Linked DNA regions of Homo sapiens. The protein of the gene in region 2 purifies or fractionates together with the protein of the main gene of each other region. This does not show direct contact. Each region holds a gene or a part of one and is shown on either strand. Other genes may lie near its edges.

Region 1 (3,176 bases), on a different chromosome or scaffold from region 2:
GAGACAGGGTTTCCCCGTGTTAGCCCGGATGGTCTCAATCTCCTAACCTCGTGATCCACCTGCCTCAGCCTCCCAAAGTGCTGGGATTACAGGCCCGAGTCACCGCACCTGGCCTAGTATTACATCTTTTTTTTTTTTCCTTTTTTCGTGAGACAGAGTCTTGCTTTGTCACCCAGGCTGGAGTGCAGTGGTGCTATCTTGGCTCACTGCAAACTCCGCCTCCCGGGTTCACGCCATTCTCCTGTCTCAGCCTTCCTGGTAGCTGGGACTACAGGTGCCCGCCACCATGCCCGGCTAATTTTTTTTTGTATTTTTAGTAGAGGCGGGGTTTCCCCGTGTTAACCCGGATGGTCTCAATCTCCTAACCTCGTGATCCGCCTGCCTCGGCCTCCCAAAATGCTGGGATTACAGGCGTGAGCCACTGTTCCCGGCCTACATTTTTTAATAAATTGGTTTTGAAACTGCAATGGTGCCTGCCTGTAATCTCGGCTGTTCAGCAAGGTGAGGCAGAAGGATCACTTGAGCCCAGGAGTTTGACACCAGCTTGGGCAAGATAAAACTTCATCTCACAAAATAAAATACTACTTTTGTGACTTGGGTTCCGTGGTGAATATAGGAGAATCGTCATGAAAGTGGCAGTTTACTAGGATGTGACTTTGCATTTAGTTTAAGGATTATTTAGATTTTTTTGTTTTTTAAAGAGACGGTATTTATGTCTTTTAATTTTAGAATATGTTAATGTCTGTCCCAGCATGTTGGAACATAATTTCTTTAAAGGGAGGGATCATTGCTTTTTCTCAAGTGATTTTAGTCTCTTCACCCTGTGGTAAGAGGATTGTTTCATATACGAATCCATAGGTAGGAAATACATGTTCTCCCTGCCTGTTCCCCTCTCTCCAAAATGTAGATACACTGGGCAAAGAAACATAGCCAAGGAATCCTTTTTCCCCTAATATCTGTATGTCTTTCAAGAGGATATTACTTCCTTCTCAGAGTAGAAGGGAGGAGGAGTAGACAGATTGTTGCTTAGAGTGAAGTTTACACGAAGTAAGACCAAAGTCCGGCTCCTGTATCATTGTTTTCCTTTGTCCTGCTCTGTTGGTTTATTTTTCTTGTAATGTTGCTTTCATATGATTGTTCTCCCTCCCTTTTTCCTTGCAATATAGATTCCTAAAGGAAAACCCAACTCTTCCTTTCCTAAAAACTCTACTTTGTAAGTCACGTTCATGGCACAGTGAATTCCGCTTTCAGTTTTGGTTCTTCACTAATCATGCCTGCGTATGATCGTCCTGTTGCTTACAGACTCTGCCTGTTCCACCTTCCAGGGCGCTGACCTAAGCCTTTTCCGGCCTGCTCCTCCTGCCTACTGTGGTTGGATGTGATGTATATGACAGTGACATTTTTATGCCAAAGTTACTTGGAACTTCTGGCACATCTCATGGTTGCTTACAAGCGAGTTGTGTTCTAGTGTTTGTGTTAATGATACTTTGGCAGTGATTTGCTGTTAGAGTGAATGTTCCTATCATGTTTCCTACGTTTGAATACGTTATTGTCCTTTGGAGAACAGTTGGGTGCCCATCAGTTCTTTCATCCCTAAGCAATTTTTTTTTGCCTTTGCATATTTTTTTTCTGTCTTATGAATTAAAGATCTTCATGTATTTTAAGTAGTTTTAAAATTTTATACATTTTTTTGAGACGGAGTTTTGCTCTTGTTGCCCCGCCTGGAGTGCAGTGGCGTTCAAAGCTCACTGCAGAAATAGAACTCCCCCACCTCAGCCCCCCAAGTAGCTGGGACTATAGACATGTGGCCCCATGCCCAGCGTATGTAGTTTTTTTTTTTTTTGAGACGGAGTCTCGATTGTCGCCCAGGCTGGAGTGCAGCGGCAGAATCTTGGCTCACTGAAAGCTCCGCCTCCTGGGTTCACGCCATTCTCCTGCCTCCCGAGTAGCTGGGACTACAGGCGCCTGCCACCATGCCTGGCTAATTTTTTTTTTTTTTTTTTGTATTTTTAGTAGAGACAGGGTTTCACTGTGTTAGCCAGGATGGTCTCGATCTCCTGACCTCATGATCCACCTCTCTTGGCCTCCCAAAGTGCTGGTATTACAGGCGTGAGCCACCATGCCTGGCTCCAGCATACATAGTTTTTTACTTTTAGTTTTATTTATTCTTTTTTTTTTTTTTTTGAGACGGAGTCTCACTCTGTTACCCAGGCTGGAGTGTAGTGGCATGTTCTTGGCTCGCTGCAACCTCCGTCTCCTGGGTTCAAGCAATTCTCATGCCTCAGCTTCCCAGGTAGCTGGGATTACAGGCATGTGCCACCACGCCAGGCTAATTTTTTGTATTATTTTTTCAGTAGAGATGGGGATTTACTGTGTTAGCCAGGATGGTCTTGATCTTCTGACCTCGTGATCCGCCCGCCTTTGCTTCCCAAAGTGCTGGGATTACAGGCGTGAGCCACCGTGCCCGGCGTTATGTTCATTTTTTGTAGAGACAGGGCTTCACTGTGTTGCTGAGGCTGTAAGTGGGTTTTGAAGTCACACAGCAATGTCAAGCGTTTCCGCCGCAGAAGAGATTTGAAAACTACTGAAACCTTGATGCTGTGACATTTGTCATTTTGAGATCATTTAGGCTGTTTCAAAGCTGTACTCAGTGTAAATGCTTCATGTGTGTAGGCAGCTAGTTTGGTGTTATTTGTCCATCCTAATTAAATAATTTAACAAGCATTATGAATGGATAGTCATTTGAACATTTATGATTCTTGGGTTGATTTTTCATTTATTTTGTTTCAAACTAGTTAACTGTGTAGTAATTGTAAGTGGTTTTTTTAAAAAAGTACAAGTGAATGTAACTTTTACCTGTTACATCATTTTTAAGGGAAAAGCCTGCATGCTTCTTTATTTTGGCTGACTTGTTTAATGCATACTAATAGGTAGATGACCCTCCAACCAATAGGTGGCTTTCTGTTGCATGTCATAGTGCAGTTGAAACTCCTTAGGGTAATCACCCTCTTTAAAGGCAAAAGACAAATAGCATGAGTGAAGTGGTCCAAATGCCATTCTTTAATAACCTCAGTGGTCTGATTTACTTTGAGCATGCTGTGTTTCACTCTGAAGTAAAATCTGATTATAGTTTGGTGTATCTGGCCAAGATACAAAAGCTGAAATATTTATAACAG
Region 2 (5,406 bases):
ACTCCTAATTCCAAGCACATTCCCTGAGGTAACAGTAGAAAATTGATACATATAAAGCAGTGAGGTCAGTCAACCTATTTAAAACTTCTACATATTTTCTATTTTAAAAGTTAGATGGGCTGGGCATGGTGGCTCGCGCCTGCAATCCCAGCACTTTGGGAGGCCAAGGCGGGCAGATCACCTGAGGTCAGGAGTTCAAGACTAGCCTGGCCAACATGGTGAAACTCTGTCTCTACAAAAATACAAAAATTAGCCGGGCATGATGGTGGGTGCCTGTAATCCCAGCTACTCAGGAGGCTGAGGCAGGAGAATCGCTTGAACCCAGGAGGTGGAGGTTGTAGTGAGCCGAGATCACGCCACTGTACTCCAGCCTGGGCAACAGAGCAAAACTCCGTCTCAAAAAAAAAAAAAAAGTTCGATGCATCCTTTATTAGAAAAGAATATTCAGAACACTGATAAATAGTCACTAAACCTGCCTTCTTAAAGGCTCTTCAAAGCTCATGTTTAGGAGTAAAGAGGAAAAACAAAACAGTTTTGGCTGTGTTTCTTTCAGTTAAAAATTAAGATACATAAACACAGCCTTTTCAATTAGAAAAGAGAAACTTAGGGGGGAAAAACTATTTCTCACTAGATTTTCGTTTAGATTTTAACATATGAATTTAAGTAGTAAGTAAGTGATTTATTTAAAATCCTCCATTTACCAATCGCAATTTTGAAACTCATTCAACTTTCAAGAATATTTACTGGTGGGCTTAGGGGAATTAAACTGCTCCCAAAAGAACAGTTCGTTCACTTATTTATTTAAAAGTCGGTGGGTAGACAGAGTCTCATTATGTTGCCCAGACTGGTCTCGAACTCCTGGGCTTAAGCAATCCACCTGCCTTAGTCTCTTGAGTAGCTGGGACTACAGGCATGTACCATTGTACCTGGCTCCAAAAAAACAGCTTAATTCTGAGCAGAAGTACAGTAACTTTGTGATGAAGAATTAAAAATAAAGATTCCCTACTAGAATACACTAGTACTTGTTTAAATGTATCTGAATACCTAATTCCTGTTGGTGTAGATGCTTCATAGGGGAACATTTCCTTAAGAATATCCCTTTCTACTCTTCTTTCCTCTGTTTTTTCTCCCACCTAATAAGAAACAGACAAACAAACAACCACAAGTTAAAATTTAGTGTAAACATGCAATAATTAAAACATAAATAGTAAGTTTTAGAGAACAAAATGCCTTTAAATCTATCATAGATTTTACAGCTGCCATTTCTAAATTATTATTTAGGTATCCACATGCTTCCAAGGCTCTCTTCAAATTTCTTGAAGATACCTTATATATGTGGTTATTGGAGTGAAAAACTGCCACACATTTAAATAACTGGGGGGAAAAAATTCAGTAATCTAACATGGCAATGCTAATTCCCTCATTGATTTTGTTTTTTACTATTAAGAGTATATTGTTGGGCCGGGTACGGTGGCTCACGCCTGTAATCCCAGCACTTTGGGAGGCTGAGGCGGGTGGATCACCTGAGGTCAGGAGTTCGAGACCAGCCTGACCAACATAGTGAAATCCCATCTCTACTAAAAATACAAAAATTAGCTGGGCGTGGTGGCGGGCACCCGTAATCCCAGCTACTCAGGAGGCTGAGGCAGGAGAATCGCTTGAACCCAGGAGGCGGAGGTTGCAGTGAGCTGAGACCGTGCCACTGCACTCCAGCCTGGGCAACAGAGCAAGACTCCGTTTCAAAAAAAAAAAAGTATACTGTTTCTTCATTTATTAAGAATTCTGTAGTAAAAGATAAAATACAGAAGATACTTAACATGAACCTTTAGCAAACTTTACTATATGTTTTAAAATTATAGTCAATGCAATATGCCCAAATTAAAAAAAATATAATGTTTAGCTTGTTTTACTGTTTACCTTTATGTCCAGAACAAAATAATAAATGTTTCGGCTCCTTTTGTAAAGATTCATTCAAATTAAAATGCACCATGCAGTTAGTACTTTCAAGCTTAATTACACAGGAGTTAACCCATTCCAGCACCACATGAAGTTATGTTAAAGTCTCTTATTTGACCCGTCAACAAAAGAAAGTGTAGCCTCCCTCATAGCCCAGCAGCACTTTCAAACTTGCATCCATGACAAACAGAACATATTATAAGCAGAACAGAAATGACCACTCCCTTGAAAACTGGAACTTAAGAGGGATACAGTGGCAAGAGGATAGTATTAGCATGTCAAACTATATTAGTTAATTTCTGTTTTCACTAATAAAAGTGTCCTTAAAATAATTTATGCATATTTACACACACCACCCAATAAAGAAAGCTCTGCTCCCTCCCACTCCAAAAAAAAAAAAAAAAAACAAACAAATATTTATATTTCCTCTTTGAAAGATCAATGATAGCATCGATCTAAATTGTATTCATTTACTTCAGCTCTTGTCAATGGTTTCTTTGGTGCTCTTCTGGGTATGTCTGAGAATTCAGTGATTGGCAGAATAGGAGATGCATGCTTGAAATTTCCAGTCACCCTATTGACAACCTGCCAAGATTCAAATTATTCAGACTCAGAATTATCCAAACATAACACAGACACTTAAAAAGAAAAGAAAGATATTTTATCTCTGTAATATTAGAAATTTTCCCTTAGTAAAGATTTAAGCAACACAGCCTACAAACACAACTTAGTGCCTCACATATGAAGCCTCATTCTTCAAATATTTTAACAAAAAATATCCTTATACTTTCTTGTACAATGAATTAGATTTCTTTACATAAATTGGATATTATAGGAAAATTCTAAAATTCAGAACTATATGGGGAAAATCAGTTTAAAATTGTTAAAAAAAAAAAACATGTAAATTTGAGATTTGCCAAAATTCACCACCTCCCCATTTCCAATTAAAGGGTAATTTACAAAGAATACCACTTGTATAGTTTATGAAACATATTTACTAAGGATTCGTTGCTTGAAGCCATTATAGTTTCAGCTATGGGAGTACTCTCTGAAATTACTGGACCATCTATACGAAAATGTTCTGAAGTTTCCACCTGTTAGTTTGAAAACAAAACAAAAACAATAAATATAAAATAATACTAAAACCCTACAAATCTGAAAACCCAAGGAATAAGCCTTGCATCACCCTTTTCCTTGGAGTTCTTCTTGACCCTCTTGTAGATTCCCTAGTTAATGCCTGCAGAGGTCCGCCTTTTGAAGATCCACTTGTCCATTCAGTCTCAGTTATTCCAGCTTGAGAATAGCTCTATTCAAGCATCAACACATTAAAAAGTCATATTCTAACATCAAATACTTTAATAACGGCCATACTGGCACACTGAGAAGCCATGAAATAGAAGTCTCCAAATGCCAGCATTTACAAACAAGGCTATGTCCTCAAAATATTCCTAAATGTATTAATTGAACTGATATTTAGGCATCAGGAAACACTTAAAAAGTGCTAAAATACACTAAAGAATCCACCTATAGTAGCTCACAAATTATAAACATTATGGGAAAAAAAGCACATCAACTATCACCAGTTCCCTTTTTGACTCACTGTGTGCTATTTGGCTCTAGTATTGGAGCTACATCTCTGTCTAAACAAAAAGCAGACTGATCATGACTTAGAAAAAAGTCATCTATTATAAGTCAGTTTCCTTTTAAAACAAAAATACAAACTTTTGTAATTGTTAGCATAAACATTATTATTTTCATATGGTTATAATCATTTTAGTAGAATCAGTTTAAATTATAATCCCACATATAGCTTATTTGAACTAAAAAATTCTCAGGTGTCAAATTTTTCTTGGAAACAGATACAAAATTAGGTAGCCACAAAAACCCTGTGGTCACTCTTTAATGAATATGCAAGCCTAACGTCACTTTCAAATCTCAATGCTATCCATGTCACTACAGAAAGACAGAAAACAGCTGCCTCAGATTAATTCTCAGTCTCAGATTAATTTCTATGTTCCACTGATCATTTTTAAAGAATCCAGCATTTCTTACATACTGGTTTAAAACCCATTAGATCAGTTCTTCTTAAATTGTAATGTGCCTATCAATCACTTGAAGCTTCTGTTAAATGCAGATTCTGATTCTGTAGCTGTAGGGCCCGAAATTCCGCATTCCAAGTAGTTTAAGGTTTTCAGTTTTGAAGTCGCTATTACCAGATGATTCTTTTAAATTCTTTTAACTACAGAACATCCATCAATGATCAGTATTATAGTAGAGTGTCCTTCTGTTGTCACTTTTGCTTTCACGCCAATATTTAACCTAGATTACTGATGGTTTTAGGTCCAAGTCAATGTCTATTAAAGACAGATTTTTTTTTTAAACTTTAATCCTGTGACAGGAGTGGTCATCCAATAAATATGCCTAAATGGCTGGATGTAATACTACCAAAACCCCACAAGTTACAGACATAGTCTCATAAATCATGGTTTTGTATTTATCTATATTTGGAATTGATATTATAAGAGTTTTAAGTCACAATCTGAATCTCTGGGTTCCTCATCCTATCAATTAGGAAGTATTTGCTGAATGCAAAATTATTGTCAAAAGAGAAACTTGTAAACAAATTACAGACATACACAGAGTAACTGCTTTTTAATTTTTATTTTATTTATTTTTTTGAGACAGAATCTCGCTCTGTTGCCCAGGCTGGAGTACAGTGGTGCAATCTCCACTCACCGCAACCTCCACCTGCGAGGTTCAAGTGATTCTCCTGCCTCACCCTCCTGAGTAGCTGGGATTACAGGCACGCACCAGCACACTTGGCTGATTTTTTTGTATTTTCAGTAGAGACAGGGTTTTGCCATGTTGGCCAGGCTGGTCTCCTGACCTCAGGTGATCCACCCACCTGGGCCTCCCAAAGTGCGGGGATTACAGGTGTGAGCCACTGCACCTGGCCAGAGTAAGTGGTTTTTAATAGTCAAATTACCAACTATTTGAATAGACGGAAAGGTAGTTTTATAATCTGAGATTCTCAATCCTTGTGGCACAGTACCATCAAGGAGAGCTTTAAAAAAAAAAAAAAAAGCAAATGCCCCCAACTACCATAACCAATTAAATCAGAATCTCTCCAGGTCTGGGAATAGATAATTTCTAAAGCTCCTGAGATAACTAAAAGCCATCTTGAAGGCCTATCAATTTAAGTAAAACATGACCAATATGGTTACTCGTACTAACTTTATTAAAAAACAAAACAAAACAAAAAAGCCTCATATTCCTCCATTTGAGAACAGTACTTTCAAACACTGCTGGTGGGAATGCAAAATGCTTCAACTCATATGCAGAGAAATGTAATGGTGAAATTACCTAGCAATTTTACTGGTACGCTTCCCCAAGATAAACTGGCAAAAAATATGCAGTGACACATGCAAAATGCTGCTCCATGGTTCATCC
Region 3 (4,452 bases), on a different chromosome or scaffold from region 2:
AATAAAACTGAAACATACACAACATCCTCATATAGAGAGGATTGGTTACACAGATGTGGGGCATTCAAATACAATTTCCAACAAACTTTTGCATTTGTAAAGTGCTTTACAACAGACAAAAGCCCTTTCATACACTAATTTACAGGGGGTACCCGTTAAAACATTACAATGAAATAACAGAGATGGCCGGGCGCCGTGGCTCACGCCTGTAATCCCAGCACTTTGGGAGGCCGAGGCAGGTGGCTCACTAGGTCAGGAGTTCACAACCAGCCTGGCCAACATGGCGAAACTCTTCTCTACTAAAAATACAAAAATTAGCTGGGAGCGATAGCGGGCGCCTGTAGTCTCAGCTACTTGGGAGGCTGAGTCAGGAGAACTGCTTGAACCCAGGAGGTGGAGGTTGCAGTGAGCACGCCACTACACTCTAGCCTGCGTGACAGAGCAAGAGTTCGTCTCAAAAAAAAAAATTAACACAGAAGATAATTCCTCTCATATTAAGGCTTAATATGGATACGGTTGCTCAAATATCATCAATAGACATGTTTTCAAATTAGCGTTTTAGAACTCAAAAAGAATATTAAACTAAGAACAAGCTACTTTTTAAAATTTATATATTTTATTTATTTATTTTGTGATGGATTCTCCCTCTGTCGCCCAGGCTGGAGTGCAGTGGCACCATCTCAGCTCACTGCAACCGCCGCCTCCCAGGTTCAAGTAATTCTCCCACCTCAGCCTCTTGAGTAGCTGTGATTACAGGCACCCACCACCATGCCCGGCTAATTTTTGTACTTTTAGTATAGACAGGGTTTCGCCATGTTGGCCAGGCTGGTCTCGAACTCCTGACCTCAGGTGATCCACCTGCCTCAGCCTCCCAAAGTGCTGGGATTACAGGCGTGAGCCACTGCACCTGGCCAAAACAAGCTCCTTTTTTTTTTTTTTCCTGAGATGAGTCTTGCTCTATCGCCAGGCTGGGATGCATTGGCACTATCTTGGCTCACTGCAACCTCCGCCTCCTGGGTTCAAGTGATTCTCCTACCTCAGCCTCCCAAGTAGGTGGGATGACAGGTGTGCACCACCACATCCAGCTAATTTTTGTTATTTTTAATAGAGACAGGGTTTCACCGTGTTGGCCAGGATAGTCTCAATCTCTTGACGTCGTGATCTGCCCGCCTCGGCCTTCCAAAGTGCTGGGATTACAGGAGTGAGCCACCGCACCCGGCTTATCTCTTCTTTTCTAACCACGTAAGCGCCCTGTGTATTATATTAGATGTGTCTTGGGGTAGTGGCTCTCTTTCCACGGAGGACCACAGATCTAAAGAAATAAAAACTGAGCTACACAGATGCACAAGATGATGTGGTTGGTAGCAGGTAAATTTTCATTTTTGGGCTTGAGAAAGTACAGGTACAAGGTGGGGGAGAAAACAAGTAGAAGATACACAACTAAAAATGTGTGCGCACACACACACAAGATGTCCTTTTCTCCTCACATCCTCTGCCCACACAGTCACCCAATCAATCATAGTCTTTCACTCTTCTCCATTACTGACATCAGGATACTTAATGTTACCTTATATTACCAGGGCCTCTAGTTTCCTCCTCCTCTTTCAAGCTATCCTACAAGAAGACTCATCACCCAAAAACTATCATGAGTCCATGTTTGCAAAAATTTCTAAGTCTTTTAGCTAGTAATCAGCACCCTCTCCCTCTATAGCTGCTCTACATGCTATTCCCCCAGGAATCTTCAACTTCCTCTATTAAGACCTTATTTCCCAGCCTGGCCAACATAAACATAGCCTGACCCTGTCTATACAAAAAAAAAAAAAAATTATCCTGTCTCTACAAAAAATCAAAAAAAGAAAAATTTAGCCAGGTATGGTAGCACACACCTGTTGTCCCAGATACTAAGAAGGCTAAGGTAGGAGAAGCCTGAGTCTGACAGGTTGAAGCTAAGTGAGTCGTTGGGCAGGGTGGGGTGGCTCACGCCTGTAATCCTAGCACGTTGGGAGGCTGGTAGACTGCCTGAGCTCAGGAGACCAGCCAGGGAAACATGATGAAACTCCGTTTCTACTAAAATACAAAAAATTAGCCGAGTGTGGTGGCGCACACCTGTAGCCGCAGCTACTCAGGAGGCTGAGGGAGGAGAATCGCTTGAACCTGGGAGGCGGAGGATGCAGTGACCCGAGATGGCGCCACTGCACTCCAGCCTGGGCCACAGAGACTCCACCTCAAAAAAAAAAAAAAGACTCCACCACTCCACCAGGCGCGGTGGCTCACGCCAATAATCCCAGCACATTGGGAGTCCAAGGCAGGCAGATCATCTGAGGTCAGGAATTCGAGACCAGCCTGGCCAACATGGCAAAACCCTGTCTCTACTAAAAATACAAAAATTAGCTGGGCAGGCTGGGCGTGGTGGCTCACACCTGTAATCACAGCACTTTGGGAGGCCGAGGCAGGTGGATCACCTGAGTTCGGGAGTTCAAGACCAGCCTGACCACCACGGAGAAACCCTGTCTCTACTAAAAACACAAAATTAGCTGGGTGTGGTGGCAGATGCCTGTAATCCCAGTTACTCAGGAGGCTGAGGCAGGAGAATAGCTTGAACCCGGGAAGTGGAGTTTGCAGTGTGAGTTGAAATCACGCCACTGCACTGCAGCCTGGCCAACAAGAGTGAGACTGTCTCAAAAAAATAAAAAATAAAGTGAGCTGTAATGGCACCACTGCATTCAAGCCTGGGCAACAGAGTAAGACTGCCTTAAACAAACAAACAAACAAACAGAAAAAGAAGGCAGAGTTTCAGAGATATTTGCAGACCCGTGTTCATAGCAGTACTACTCACAACAGCCAACAGTCAGAAGCAACCCAAGTGTCCATCAATGGATGAATGATTAAACCATATGTGGCATAGGCATACAATGGAATACTATTCAATCTCAAAAAGGAAGGAAATCCCATCACCGGCTATAACATGGATGAACTTTGAAGACAATATGGTAAGTAAAATAAGCAATTCACAAACAGATACCACAAAGTTTTAAAAAAGAAGGAAGGAAGGAAAGGAGGGAGGGAGGGAGGGAAGAAGGGAGAGAAAGAAAGCTGAGCTTAATTTCTGGTCTCCTGGTTGGCATCGTGGCTCGCGCGTGTAATCCCAGAACTCTGGGAGTTGGAGGAAGCAGGATGATCGCTTGAGCTCAGGAGTTCGAGACCAGCCTGGGCAACAAAGCGAAGTATCTATGAAAAATTAGGAAAAAAAAAAAAATTAGCTGAGTGTAGCGTCATCCGCCTGTGGATCCAGCTACTCAGGAGACTGAGGCAGGAAGATCACTTGAACCAATAACAGCAGGAGTTTGAGACTGCAGTGAGCAATAACCACGCCACTGCACTCCAGCCTGATGAAGAGCAAGACCCTGTCTCTAAAAAAATAAGTAAGGCTGAGCGCGGTGGCTCACACCTGTAATCCCAGCACTTTGGGAGGCCGAGGTGGGCGGACTGCCTGAGCTCAGGAGTTCGCAACCAGCCTGGACAACCCGGTGAAACCCCGTCTCTACTAAAATACAAAAAACCGGGCCGGGTGTGGTGGTGGGCACCTGTAGTCCCAGCTACTTGGGAGGCTGAGGCAGGAGAATTGCTTGAACCCAGGAGGCGGAGGTTGCAGTGAGCCAAGATCACACCACTGTACTCCAGCCTGAGAGGGAGACTCCGTCTCAAAAAAAAAAAAAAAAAAAAAAAAAAAGTACATCTGTTGGAGTAACAAAGAATTCAACCAGGACTTTCCTGAAAAGTTTTACCAAAAGCTGTATAGGTTTTAACTGTTTAGGTACTTTTATTATTTCCTAGGAGTTATTATAAACGGCGTATTCTATTTGCACAGTTCATTACACTTTTTTTTTTGTTTTTCCTGAGATGGAGTCTCACTCTGTCACCCAGGCTGGAGTGCAATGGAACCATCTCCGCTCACTGCAACCTCCGCCTTCCAGGTTTAGTGATTCTCCTGCCTCAGCCTCCCGAGTAGCTGGAGGTTAATTTTCTGTATTTTTAGTAGAGACAGGGTTTCACCATTTTGGCGAGGCTGGTTACCAACTCCTGGCCTCAAGTAATCCGCCCACCTCAGCCTCCCAAAGTGCTCGAACTACAGGCGTGAGAGCCACCGTGCCCAGCCAATTCATTACACTTTTTAAAGTAGTTTCATGTTCACCATTTTATCTGCCCCTCCCAATTGCCCCCTAAAGGTGAGGAACCCAGGAGACTTCTCATTCCTATTTTGAAGTTACGGAAACCAAAGTGGGACAAAAGCTACCACACTGGGCCGGGCGCAGTGGCTCACGCCTGTAATCCCAGCATTTTGGGAGGCCGAGGTGGGCGGATCACGAGGTCAGGAGATTGAGACCATCCTGGCTAACACGGTGAAACCCCGTCTCTACTAAAAATACAAAAACAAAATTAGCCGGGCGTGGT
Region 4 (4,452 bases), on a different chromosome or scaffold from region 2:
AATGTAGATTTGTGATATTTTGAGAAGTATCGGCCAGGTGCGGTGACTCATACTTGTAATCCCAGCACTTTGGGAGGCTGAGGCTGGCAGAACAATTGAGCCCAAGGAGTTGAGACCAGACTGGGCAACATGGCAAAACCCTGTCTCCACCAAAAAAAAAAAAAAAAAATACAAAAAAAATTAGCCGGGTGTGGTGGCGTGTGTCTGTAGTCCCAGCTACTCAGGAGGCTGAGGTGGGAGGATCACTTGAGCCTGGGAGGTTGAGGCTGTAGTGAGCTGAGATCAGGGCGCTGCACTCTAGCCTGGGTGACAGAGTAAGACCCTGTCTCAGAAAAAAAAAAAAAAAAAAAAAGTATAAAATTTGGTTTTAGTCAAGACCATTAATAAGTGTGTAATCTGTTTTAAGTTGGATGGAAGTAAATTATTAGCCATAGTTAGCAGGTTATTCAAGCCACTATATTACAACTGAAGCATAAGTTTGTAATTAAGAATAGTTAAATTTGTGCTTGCTTTGACATTGAGTAGAAAATTTTTAAGCCATGTCAAATGTGTAGTTTACCTGTTACAATTAAATAACTAGACTTTCACAAATTACAGGGATTCATCCAACCATCATTTCTGAGTCATTCCAGAAGGCCCTGGAAAAGGGCATTGAAATCTTGACTGACATGTCTCGACCTGTGGAACTGAGTGACAGAGAAACTTTGTTAAATAGTGCAACCACTTCACTGAACTCAAAGGTGAGACAAACACTAACGGATACTTGTCAAATTAGTTAAAAGTGTGTTACTCTATGATTCTTGATGCTATACGGTACATAAATACTAAATCTCAAGAGTGGCTAGGTAACTGTTATAATCTGTATAATTGAATTGGTTTAAGATTAAGAGAGGAAATGAGCCATAAGGCTAACAAAGGAGTTAGGATATTTAATATATACTATATCCATTTCCACTTTTCTGTTTAATGCATTGTAACAGTGTTTTGATAAAGCTAGATATTTTAATTTGCCTATAAGAAACCTTTTCCTCCACCAAATCAGAAAGACTGCCATAGATTACTGGCAGTATAGCTAATTTTTATTGAATATTTAATATGGTGGGCATTGTGATAAGTTTTTTACATTTATTGTCCTCTTCAAGGCCCTCAGATAGTCATATCCCCATTTTATAGATGAAAAGAGTAGATCTAGAGGAGTAACTTATCCAAGGACCGCTAACAGAAACAGCTGAGATTTGAACCCAGGACAGGCTGCCCATCGTGGTCCATCCCTTAACTAATACTTATGCTGCTTTTCTTATTTACCAAACTTAAAGCGGTGTTGTGCTTTTAAATTTCTTTGGAACTCATGTCACTTGTTTTCTGTAATATCCTGTGTTTATCCCTTCCTTCCCCTAATCCTTTTTCCTTTTAAAAATCAGTATTAAGTCCATACATTCATTTTGTTTGAATGTTAGGTAGTGTTAGGGACACTAAGTGATACTGTTGGATGTCCTTAGAACTAATACAGATAGTATAGCGTAATGGTTACAAGCACTAGGCATTGAGTCTAGACTGCTTGTGTTTGTTCAGTACTGACTTCACCACTTAACTACGCTGTTTGGCCAAATGACTTAACCTCTTGGCTTCAGTTTCTCCATCTGAAGATTGAATGAGTTAATATGTAAAGTTCTAAGACCACTGCCTGGCATATGTTAAGTGATTGATAAATGTTAGCAATTTTTATCAACCCCTCATCAGGAATGTACATACATAACATTGATGCCTCATCACACATTCATTTTAGATAGAAAATACTCACGTAAAATTAAATTTATGCTTTTTGGATTTCCTGTAAAACTTTGATATTCTACAGTCCCGGCTATTATATTAATAAAAGAAAAAAGCAAGCATACATGTTTTTATTTTGTGCCCCTGGTGACAACCTGAATGGAAAAGACACTTTATGGACTGTCTTCTCATGAGTGTTTCCCTCTTCATACCCACACCCCACTGCAAAAATTATAAGAGTCTTTCTTAAGTATCTTTGTCATTGAAAAATTAGGACTTTTTTCTACTGTGAAGGTAACTTTTTTTTTTTTTTAATAATTCTAGGTGGTTTCTCAGTATTCAAGTCTGCTTTCTCCAATGAGTGTAAATGCAGTGATGAAAGTGATTGACCCAGCCACAGCCACCAGTGTAGATCTTAGAGATATTAAAATAGTTAAGAAGCTTGGGTAAGCATCTCTAATTACAACTTGAATAAAAATTTGAAAATGAGCATCAGATTGCCAAAAATAAATAAAAACACCTAGATGAAAGTCACAAAGCTCTCTTTTCTCTTTTTGGTTTTGTTTTCGTGAGAATTTGTATTAGTATGGGCATCTGGAGATTTTGTTTATGTTACCTTATGATAGTAAGGCAGCAGTGGATCAAAGAGATCCAGGAGTGGGGCAATAATAAATGTGAGGCTGAATCATATTTTATTGGACTGATGACTTTTAATCTGTTCATCTATTAAACGTACAGATGTCCACTCCCTCTTAACTACCCCTCTTTGTTTTCTTTTATCCTTAGTGGGACAATTGATGACTGTGAGTTGGTGGAAGGGCTGGTTCTCACCCAAAAAGTGTCAAATTCTGGCATAACCAGAGTTGAAAAGGCCAAGATTGGGCTTATTCAGTTTTGCTTATCTGCTCCCAAAACAGACGTAAGTAGAATCCAAATGAAATTGGTTCTCTGTGTTTAACTTTTTAATAACTCAGGCATTTCTTTATTAAAAATAGAAAATACTACTAGTGATTTAAAGCAGATCTCAAAAGACTTACTAGAATTGAGACAAAAATAGTAATTGTTGGTGCCACAAGTGACAAGTCTGTATCCTCAGTTGGGATATTGAAATTGAGAGCTAGCCATTTGCAACGATGCCTGTAGTCCCAGCTCCTTGGGAAATTGAAGCAGAAAAATTGCTTGAACCTAGGAGTTTGAGGTTGCAGGGTGCTATTCCATGACCTGTGAATAGTCCCTGCACTCCACTCCAGCCTGGGCAACATAGTGGGACCCCATCTTTTCACTGTTGCTGTTAATTTACAAATTCACACAGATTAGAGAGGGACCCTATCTTTTGAAAACAACTAGGGTAACCATTTTATATTTTTTGGTTATAAAAAATTTACTTGCAAAATGTAAGATACCAGTGTACTTAGTTGAAAATAAAAGACTCAAGTTTGGGATGTGTATCTTAATCCAGACTCTTTTCTATGCATGTCTATATAATTTATTACTTGATATAGTTTTGGTTGAATTTATACAACACATAGTATTTTCGCTTAAAATTCTACTTTTAAACTTAAAATATCTTACAATGCAAATTATGATGTTCTTTTTCTGAACAGATGGATAATCAAATAGTGGTTTCTGACTATGCCCAGATGGACCGAGTGCTGCGAGAAGAGAGAGCCTATATTTTAAATTTAGTGAAGCAAATTAAAAAAACAGGATGTAATGTCCTTCTCATACAGAAATCTATTCTAAGGTGTGGGGCTATTTATTTTGTTCATCCCTTAATGATAATTTTGGATCTCCACTAGCAGTTTATTTTTTCTGATAAAATATATGATTTAAGCACTTACTCTAAGTTCGTATTTCTTAACAGACAACTCTTAGGTGAAACGAAATGGAGAATTTTTATTTTAAAAGCACAGGTAAAATGTTAGGCCTCAATATTGTACCATCATTTGCTCAGACCAAGGGAAAAAATGGTATAAGTTCAGTTAAGATGTCTAGGAAAAGCATTTTAAACAAATATATGACTTGTAAATTCAAAACAATAAAGGTGTAATTTTCTTTTACAAAAAAAAGTAGGTTTTTTAAAATAGCCAACTAACTGCCAGAATGTTGTGTTTTGGCCTTTTAAAAAACTTATTTCTTCGATTATTGGCTTCAGGGTGGAGCCCTTAAGGAACAGGGCCAAGAAAGCATGCAGTTTTTAGAGTCTAAACCACACTTCTAATAGCAATTTTTTTTAATTTTTTTTTTTTTTTTTTTGAGACAGAGTCTCACTCTGTCATCCAGGCTGGAGTGCAGTGGTGCAATCTCGGCTCACTGCAACCTCCGCCTCCTGGGTTCAACAAGTGATTCTACTGCCTCAGCCTCCCGAGTAGCTGGGACTGCAGGCACGTGCCACCACACCTGGCTAATTTTTTGTATTTTTTGAGTAGAGATGGGGTTTTACCATGTTAGCCAGGATGGTCTCGATCTCCTGACCTCATGATCCACCCGCCTCAGCCTCCCAAAGTGCTGGGATTACAGGCATGAGCCACCGCACCCAGCCTCTAAGAGCAATTTTTATAGAAACATTTGAGTTGGGTAAACCACCAGAAATCTGCATTTTTTTTTTTAGCAGTATCATTATTTTTCCTTGCAGTTACAAGCTGGAAAAGCATTATTATGTTTTGATAAAAAGTGCGTAAT

The links. Proteins that work in one complex are often made in the same cells at the same time.
Region 1: the proteins of TMPO (region 2) and YWHAE purify together in Homo sapiens (affinity purification with mass spectrometry; 3 studies listed by BioGRID). This does not show direct contact.
Region 3: the proteins of TMPO (region 2) and CANX purify together in Homo sapiens (affinity purification with mass spectrometry; 3 studies listed by BioGRID and IntAct, with this or other methods). This does not show direct contact.
Region 4: the proteins of TMPO (region 2) and CCT4 purify together in Homo sapiens (affinity purification with mass spectrometry, with the first as the bait; one large-scale study listed by BioGRID). This does not show direct contact.

The regions. Positions count from the first base shown.
Region 1 is NC_000017.11:1,345,999-1,349,174, reverse strand, and holds part of YWHAE (14-3-3 protein epsilon), read left to right. Parts: intron 1-3,176. UniProt on the Homo sapiens protein: Adapter protein implicated in the regulation of a large spectrum of both general and specialized signaling pathways. Binds to a large number of partners, usually by recognition of a phosphoserine or phosphothreonine motif.
Region 2 is NC_000012.12:98,542,086-98,547,491, reverse strand, and holds part of TMPO (thymopoietin), read right to left. Parts: intron 3,263-5,406; coding exon 3,143-3,262; intron 3,051-3,142; coding exon 2,955-3,050; intron 2,542-2,954; coding exon 2,431-2,541; intron 1,134-2,430; coding exon 1,045-1,133; intron 1-1,044. UniProt on the Homo sapiens protein: May help direct the assembly of the nuclear lamina and thereby help maintain the structural organization of the nuclear envelope. Possible receptor for attachment of lamin filaments to the inner nuclear membrane.
Region 3 is NC_000005.10:179,701,015-179,705,466, reverse strand, and holds part of CANX (calnexin isoform d precursor), read right to left. Parts: intron 1-4,452. UniProt on the Homo sapiens protein: Calcium-binding protein that interacts with newly synthesized monoglucosylated glycoproteins in the endoplasmic reticulum. It may act in assisting protein assembly and/or in the retention within the ER of unassembled protein subunits.
Region 4 is NC_000002.12:61,875,157-61,879,608, reverse strand, and holds part of CCT4 (T-complex protein 1 subunit delta), read left to right. Parts: intron 1-559; exon of another isoform or gene 560-597; coding exon 598-740; intron 741-2,094; coding exon 2,095-2,216; intron 2,217-2,556; coding exon 2,557-2,689; intron 2,690-3,374; coding exon 3,375-3,514; intron 3,515-4,452. UniProt on the Homo sapiens protein: Component of the chaperonin-containing T-complex (TRiC), a molecular chaperone complex that assists the folding of actin, tubulin and other proteins upon ATP hydrolysis.